2 linked regions of the Homo sapiens genome follow. The protein of the gene in region 1 interacts with the protein of each later gene in a biochemical or structural test. Each region holds a gene or a part of one and is shown on either strand. Other genes may lie near its edges.

Region 1 (3,739 bases):
ATCATGCCTGTTTAACTCATTTCCCCAAAAAGACCGCGACCTCCAGCCAGTCATTCAGTTCTTGAACTCCCTAATAGAAGCACCAAGGATTATCTATTTGTAATCACATTGTGGTGAATTATCAGTCTCCCAAGAATTATGTAAAGCAAATAGGAATTATTTTAGAGTTGCCCTTATTTTAAAAAACAAAAAAAAAGTAAAGATGGGAAAATTACTTATAGTATTTTTTTTTAATTTGAGAAAGAATTCCTGTAGGTCTCCCTTAAATAGTGACTTTGGTAAAGCTTTTTAATTTCTAGAACTCAGAGCTATATTCACTTTTGAGCTATGTACCTATTGTATAAGTTGAAGTAATACTGCAAATTCAAACAGTAAACATCATTAATCCTAGATATTTGGGTACTACCTACAGTGAGATATGGTAGGAAACATTCTACACTTACAACAACTTCCACCATAGCTAGCTCCAAACAGGTCATTAACCTCTGAATTACTGTTTTCACAACCATAAAATTATGCTGGTCTCTTGAAAGTATTAGTTTATGGGTGTGGAGAGGAAGGCTTAAATTTCATTTTTGAAGCTGTCGTTAAAAGTATATATTTTTAGCAAAGGAATTAATAACTAATAGCATTGATGAGTCAAGTTAATATTTGTTTTTGTTTTTTTTTTTTTTTAATTTTGGGCCTCACTCCTATAAAAGACTTGGAACAGAAGTCTTAGTATGATGGTAAACTTGAAAATTAAAATTTTATCAGGGATATTAGAATCCAATTATATGAGACTGCATCCTCAACAGGCACCTTGGTTGCAACACCATGAAAGACCTTGATCCAGAGGTTCTCAGCAAGCCACACCTGAATTCCTAACCCACAAAAACTGTGAGATAACAGATGTTTGTGTTTTTAGCTGCTAAGCTTTAATTTGTTTATGCAGAAATAAGGGAAAAGGACCCTAGAGATCCTTGAGGAATCCCACTTTACAGATGTAGAAGCTGAGGGCTAGAAGGAGAAAAGTCATGTACACAAAGTCTGGAGACAACTCAGATAGTCACTACATCCTCTTGCTCTTTCTCATTTTTACTCTTTAACTGGCTCCTCACTTTTTAGATGGATGGCACTGGGCTCTGGAGCAAACCATCTGTTCTGTATCTGTTAAGGCCTCTAGAGCTTCATTCATTCCTTCATCAAATATTTTTTGAGTGTCCACTATGTGCCAGGCACTATTCTAGATTCAAGATATAAAGTAATATACAAAAACAAAATCCAGTTACAAATATAATTTTTAAAGCTATTTGTGAGCATAACTTCGTAACACATTTAGAACCTTTGCCTTCAGCTGACATGAATTATGTTGTCTTTTTGTTTTTTGGTCCAGTTTCATTAGTCATTAAAGTCATTTGAATTAAAGACAATAATCCAGACTCCAGAGGTTATGGCTTTTATGTGTTTGGATACTGTCATAGTCTGCTCAGGCTGCCATAACAAACACAGACTGGGTGGCTTAAATAACAGAAATTTATATTTTCACAGTTCTGGAGGCTGGGAATCTGAGATCAGGGTACCAGTATACTGGGTTTCTGGTGAGGGTGCCTTTCCTGGCTTACAGATGGCTGCCTTCTCACTGTGTTCTTGCATGGTAGCAGAGGAGGGTCAGAGAGGAGAGCAAGCTCTGAGGCATCTCTTTTTTATAAGGGCACTAATCCCGTCATGAAGCCCTCACCCTCATGACCTCATCTAAACCTAATTATCTCCTAAAGACTTCCTCTCCAAATACTATTTAAGGCTTCAACCTGAATTTGGAGGTGACACAGTTGAGCCCATAGCAGATATATTTAGTAACAACTGTGGGTACAGGCATGCCTCAGATATTGCAGGTTCGGTTCCCAGCCACCATAAATATTTAAATAAAGTGAGTCACAAATTTTTTGGTTTCCCAGTGCATATAAAAGGCATATTTACCCTATACTGTAGTCTATTAACTGCAATAACATTGTGCCTAAAAAAGATGTACATGCCTTAATTTTCAAACTATTGCCAAAAAATGCTAAATAACCATCAGAGCCTTCAGCAAGTAGTAATGTTTTTGCTGATGGACAGTCTTGCCTCATTTTGATAGATACTCACCAGGATGGTGGTTGCTGAAGGTTAGGGTGGCCGTGGCAATTTTTTACAATAAGACAGTAGTGAAGTTTGCTTCATCAATTGACTCTTCCTTTTACAAGAGATTTCTCTGGCATGCAGTGCTATTTGATAATATTTGATACCCACAGTAGAACTTCTTTCCGAACTTCTTTCACAATTGGAGTTAATCTTCTAAAGCCCCGCCACTGCTTCATCAACTAAGTTTATGGAATATTCTAAATCCTTTGTTGTCTTTTCAACAATGTTCACAGCATCTTCACCAGGAGAAGACTTTCCCCCCTTCTTTTCACAGATGTTGAGATTGTCAAGAAACTACTTTCCTTGCCCACCCATAAGAAGCAACTTATCATCTGTTCAAGTTTTATCATAAGATTGCAGCAATCCAGACACATCTTCAGGCTCCACTTGTAGTTCTCTTGCTATTTTCACCGCATCTGCAGTTACTGCCGCCACTGAGGTTTTGAACTTCTCAAAGTCATGAAAGTTGTAATTAACTTCTTTCAAACTCTTGTTAATGTTGATATTTTGACTCCCATGAATCACAAATATTCTGAATGAATGGCATCCAGAATAGCAAATCCTTTTCAGAAGGTTTTTATTTTGCCCAGATCCATCAGAGGAATCACTATCTATGAAAGCTTTTGCCTTATAAAATGTATTTCTTGGATGATAAGACTTGAAAGCTGAAGTTATTCTTTGATCTATGGCTGCAGAATGGATGTTGTGTTAGCAGGCAGAAAAACACTAATCTCATACATCTCCATAGAGCTCTTGGGTGACCAGGTGCACTTGTCAATGAGCAGTAATATTTTGAAAGGAATCTTTTTCTGAGCAATAGATCTCCGCAGTGGGCTTAAAATATTTAGTAAACCTTCCTATAAACGGATGTGCTACCATCCAGGCTTTATGGTTCCTTTTATAGAGCAAAAACATTATATTTAGTTTAATTTTAAGGACCCTAGGATTTTTGGAATGATAAATGAACATTAGTTAGCATTGCATTGGCCCCTAACAAGAAATCAGTCTCTCGTTTGAAGCCAAGCATCAACTTTTCTCTAGCTATGAAAGTCCTGGATGACATCTTCCAACATAAGACTTTCATCTACATTGAAAGTTTGTTTTTAGTGTAACTACCTTCATCAATGATCTTAGCTAGATCTTCTGGATAACTTGCTGTAGTTTCTACTTTAGCAGTTGCTGCTTCACCTTATGCTTGTCTGTTGTGGAGACAGCTTGTTTCCTTAAACTCCATGAATCAACCACTGCTAGCTTCAGACTTTTCTTCTGCAGCTTCCTTACCTTAGCCTCCATAGAATTGAAGAGAGAGGGCCTTGCTCTGCGTTAGGCTTTGGCTTAAGATAGTGTTGTGGCTGATTTGATCTATTAAAAAAAAAAAAACTCAGGCTTTCTCTATACCACTTTTCTTATGATTCATGTGTTCACTTGAGTAGCACTTTTAATTTCAGGAACTCTTCCTTTGGATATACAACTTGGCTGTTTGGCTCAAGAGGCCTAGCTTTCAGCTTGCCTTGGCTTTCAACATGCTTTCCTCACTAAGCTCCAATCATTTATAGCATTTGATTGAGAGAGAGAGAGA
Region 2 (3,996 bases), on another chromosome or scaffold:
TGTCATTATGACAGATAGCACACTTGTTGCTTCTGCTGTCAAGCATGTATACATTTCTTTCTTTATAAAGACAGGTTCCTGAGTATGTAATGAAATGGGCCTGTGAAATCTGCAAACGACAAGGATAAACTACTAGACTTTTTTTTTTTAACTTGATTTATTGATGAAGACTAGTAAAAGCTTATGGGGGGGTGTTAAGTCTGTTCATTATCTGTTCTATTAATACTTAGGATACTTTATTTTGATATATTTGAATGCATAGAATAGATACCATTTAATGAATAAGACGCAGTTTAATTGAACAAGGTTGGAAACCTAATGTTTCTGTATTTCTCTTTTAAAGTTATTCCTTATTGATTTTGGTTTGGCCAAAAAGTACAGAGACAACAGGACAAGGCAACACATACCATACAGAGAAGATAAAAACCTCACTGGCACTGCCCGATATGCTAGCATCAATGCACATCTTGGTATTGAGCAGAGGTAAGTTCGAAAATGGAATGTGCTTATCATAGCCATAGCAGAAGCCATCAATGGGTTTTTGAAATATTTTAGTTTCTTACAATGTCTAAGGATGTTTCTTGGCTGAGGATTTGAAGGATGCTTATTAATCATTTTACCTGCTGCTTTAACCAGTGTAGAGAAGACCGTTAAATGAGGTCTTCTGGATTTTTTGTTGTTGTTGAAGGTTGTCTCTTGGGGGGAAAATACTGCGTGATAGAAAGTTAGAAGCATAAGTGCAATGTTGACGTTTCTTTTTGCAGCTGAAGATAGTACATATATTTTTAGAGCTATTTGGGGCTTTTTATACTTTAGTAATTCACGCTGAGTTTGGGAAGAATGCATTATTTATTTTTAAAAGGAAAATGTTATCAGTGTCCTAATAAACCAAAAGTGGGTTGATGGACCATCTCCTGTTATACTTCACTCAAATATATAAATTAATAGGATCTAGTTTAAAGTAAAAAAAGTAACAGTCTCTGCTCTCTTCCTATTTCTTCACATGAGTTCTAGAGTTTCGAGTTCCTTTCATCTTTTACAGTCACTTTTTGCTCCTTAAAACTAGCATAGAAGTAATAAGTAGAAAAAACAATGATATGCCTCCAGGTTAAAGAACCTCATACCAAGAATTTCAGGCTTAAGAAATATCCATGAATATCTGAATGATCTAGGTTAAACTGTAATGTCACTTTTTCTGTACGCCAAGGCATTACCTATCCTTAAATATATATATATCTAAATATATATTTGTATGTATGTGTATATAGATATGTATGCATGAATACATTCATATAGATGTTCAATTAGTTTTAAGTTGTAACTCCTTTTCAGTACTTCTGAAGTTTTTTTTTAATGAGTTTCTGCAAAACATAGAAATGTCATCCTGCTTGGTTCATTAAGCTCATTTAGAGGGTTGTTTAGCCAAATCGTTTCTGTTCTTTTAAAATTAAATTGTAAGACAGTTGTTTGTCAGATTTTGGATTCCATGGAAAAAGTTTTGTTTAGAGGTAGGTAACACATGAACTTTTTAAAATCACCTTAAATAAGTAGCTTCTTGCGTAAGACACCAAATAGTGTTCCCTCCTCATTTGGGAACATTTCTTCTGGGTACTTGACTTTCTTTCATATGTTTTTTCATAATAATAGTTCCAGTTTATAAAATTACGTTCTCTTTTCTAGTCGCCGAGATGACATGGAATCATTAGGATATGTTTTGATGTATTTTAATAGAACCAGCCTGCCATGGCAAGGGCTAAAGGTAAACCAGACTCACATTATCAGATTTTTCTCTCTCTTTTTTAGAATAAAAATATATATTGGAGAAGATAAGATTTAAGGTCCCTTCTAAGTCTGAGATTTTTCTGAGATATAAAGAATTAACCTTAATTTACTTTTTACCTTTTATCTGGGAAAATGAAACCAGATCATTTTAGTAAGAACTTAGTTCAGCTGAAGAACAGTGTCCTCTAAGAGACAGTAAGCTGGTACCCACTGGTAGCCACTAGCTCTATCTAGATGGAAGTGGGCATGGACTAAGAAAGGTGGAGACTTTCTCATTTTGATGTGTTGCCATTATGTTGAAAATGTATGTTTTTATGTACAGCAAGACCTGTTTATCCAGCAATACATGTCCTAACATTTTGTTTCTATTAGCTAGGAGTTTACTGTTACTTTTGTGAGTGTATGTTAATGATAAATCACCGTATCCTAATTTTGGGTGGGGGTGGGGGCATGGGGAATGGTCTTGCTCTGTTGCCCAAGCCGGAATGCCTGGCTCACTGCAGCCTGAACCTCCTGGGCTCAAGCAGTCCTCCTATCTCAGCCTCCTACCTGTAGCTGGGACTACAGGAACATGCCACCATGCCCAGCTAATTTTTAAATTATTTTTTGTAGAGACAGTGCCTCACTGTGTTGCCCAGACTGGTCTCAAACTCTTGGGCTCAAGTGATTCTCCTGCTTCAGCATCCCAAAGAACTGGGATTACAGGTGTGAGTCACCACTGTTGGTGTGTCCTAAATTTTAATGGCTATTTTGGTACCTTACCAGTTCTTTGAAGGAATACCTGTATTTATTGAGTGGCTGTGAGCTAGTTGTAGTGCTCAGTCCTTGGGTGGGTAGCTTTATCTAATATGAGTATTTTTAGTTTAGAAAAATATTGTGACTTATACAGTTAACTCCATTTATTAATGTCACTAATTGATGAACAAATTTTTTTGTATTAATCTGATGCCTTTGCCCTTGTGTTGAACATGGGTTAAGAAAATGCTTTTCAGGCTGAGCATGGTGGCTCATGCCTATAATCTTCAACACTTTGGGAGGCCCAGCCAGGCGGATCACTTGAGCCCAGGAGTTCAAGACCAGCCTGGTCAGTATGGCAAGACCTCACCTCTACTTTAAAAAAAAAAAATAGCAGGGTGTAGTGTCACATGCCTGTAGCCCCAATTACTCAGGAGGCTGAGCCGGGAGGATTGCTTTGAGCCCAGGAGTTCGAGGCTACAGCGAGCTATAATCGAGCCACTGCACTCCAGCCTGGGCAACCGAGGGAGACCTTGTCTCAAAAAAACAAACAAACAAACAAAAAAACAAAGAAAAGGAAAAAGGAAAGAAAATGCTTTTCAGCTGGGTATGATGATGCACACCTGTAGTCCCAGCTACTTGATAGGCTGAATCAGGAGGATTGCTTGAGGCCAGGAGTTGGAGGCCACAGGGAATTACTGCTGAGCCTGTGAATGGCTACTGCACTCCAGCCTGGGCAACATAGTGAGACCCCATCTCCTTAAAAAAATATATAGAAAGAAAGAAAATGCTTTTCAATTTTGGCCCCAGCCATTTTTACTTAAATCTAATATCCATATATTCCTATTAGACTCACCCTTTCCCTATAGCTAAAATTAAATTCTTAGAGAAGAAACTTACATCAGAAGTTAACAGTTTGGGAAAAATTTTTTTTAGATGTATTATACTTTGATTTTTTAAATTCTGGGTTAAAATTTCTCTTGAATCTCACAGGTATATGTTTATATGTCTAGTGCGTTAAACTACCATGGTTCTTCTCAGTAGCACTGAGTATATCTTTTTTATTTTATTCTTTTCCACAGGCTGCAACAAAGAAACAAAAATATGAAAAGATTAGTGAAAAGAAGATGTCCACGCCTGTTGAAGTTTTATGTAAGGTAAGTATGCATGATGAATATTAAAAAAATATAAATGAAGCCAGGCACAATGGCTCACACCTGTAATCCCAGCACTTTGGGAGGCCAAGGCAGTAGGTCACATGAGCCCAGGAGTTCAAGACCAGCCTGGGCAACATAGGGAAACCCCATTTCTACCTTAATAGATAAATGATCCGGCTGGGCACAGTGGCTCAAGCCTGCAATCCCAGCACTTTAGAAGGCCGAGGTGGGCGGATCACTTGAGCCCAGAAGTTCCACAAGACCAGCCTGGGCAACATGGTGAAATACCTTATCTACCAAAAATACAAAAATTAGCTGGGTG

Evidence for each region.
Region 2: of the proteins of USP15 (region 1) and CSNK1A1, one has a biochemical effect on the other in vitro, tested with the Homo sapiens proteins (one study listed by BioGRID).

Annotation. Positions count from the first base shown.
Region 1 is NC_000012.12:62,410,190-62,413,928, forward strand, and holds part of USP15 (ubiquitin carboxyl-terminal hydrolase 15), read left to right. Parts: 3' UTR 1-3,739. UniProt on the Homo sapiens protein: Hydrolase that removes conjugated ubiquitin from target proteins and regulates various pathways such as the TGF-beta receptor signaling, NF-kappa-B and RNF41/NRDP1-PRKN pathways.
Region 2 is NC_000005.10:149,509,557-149,513,552, reverse strand, and holds part of CSNK1A1 (casein kinase I isoform alpha), read left to right. Parts: intron 1-343; coding exon 344-483; intron 484-1,680; coding exon 1,681-1,759; intron 1,760-3,599; coding exon 3,600-3,674; intron 3,675-3,996.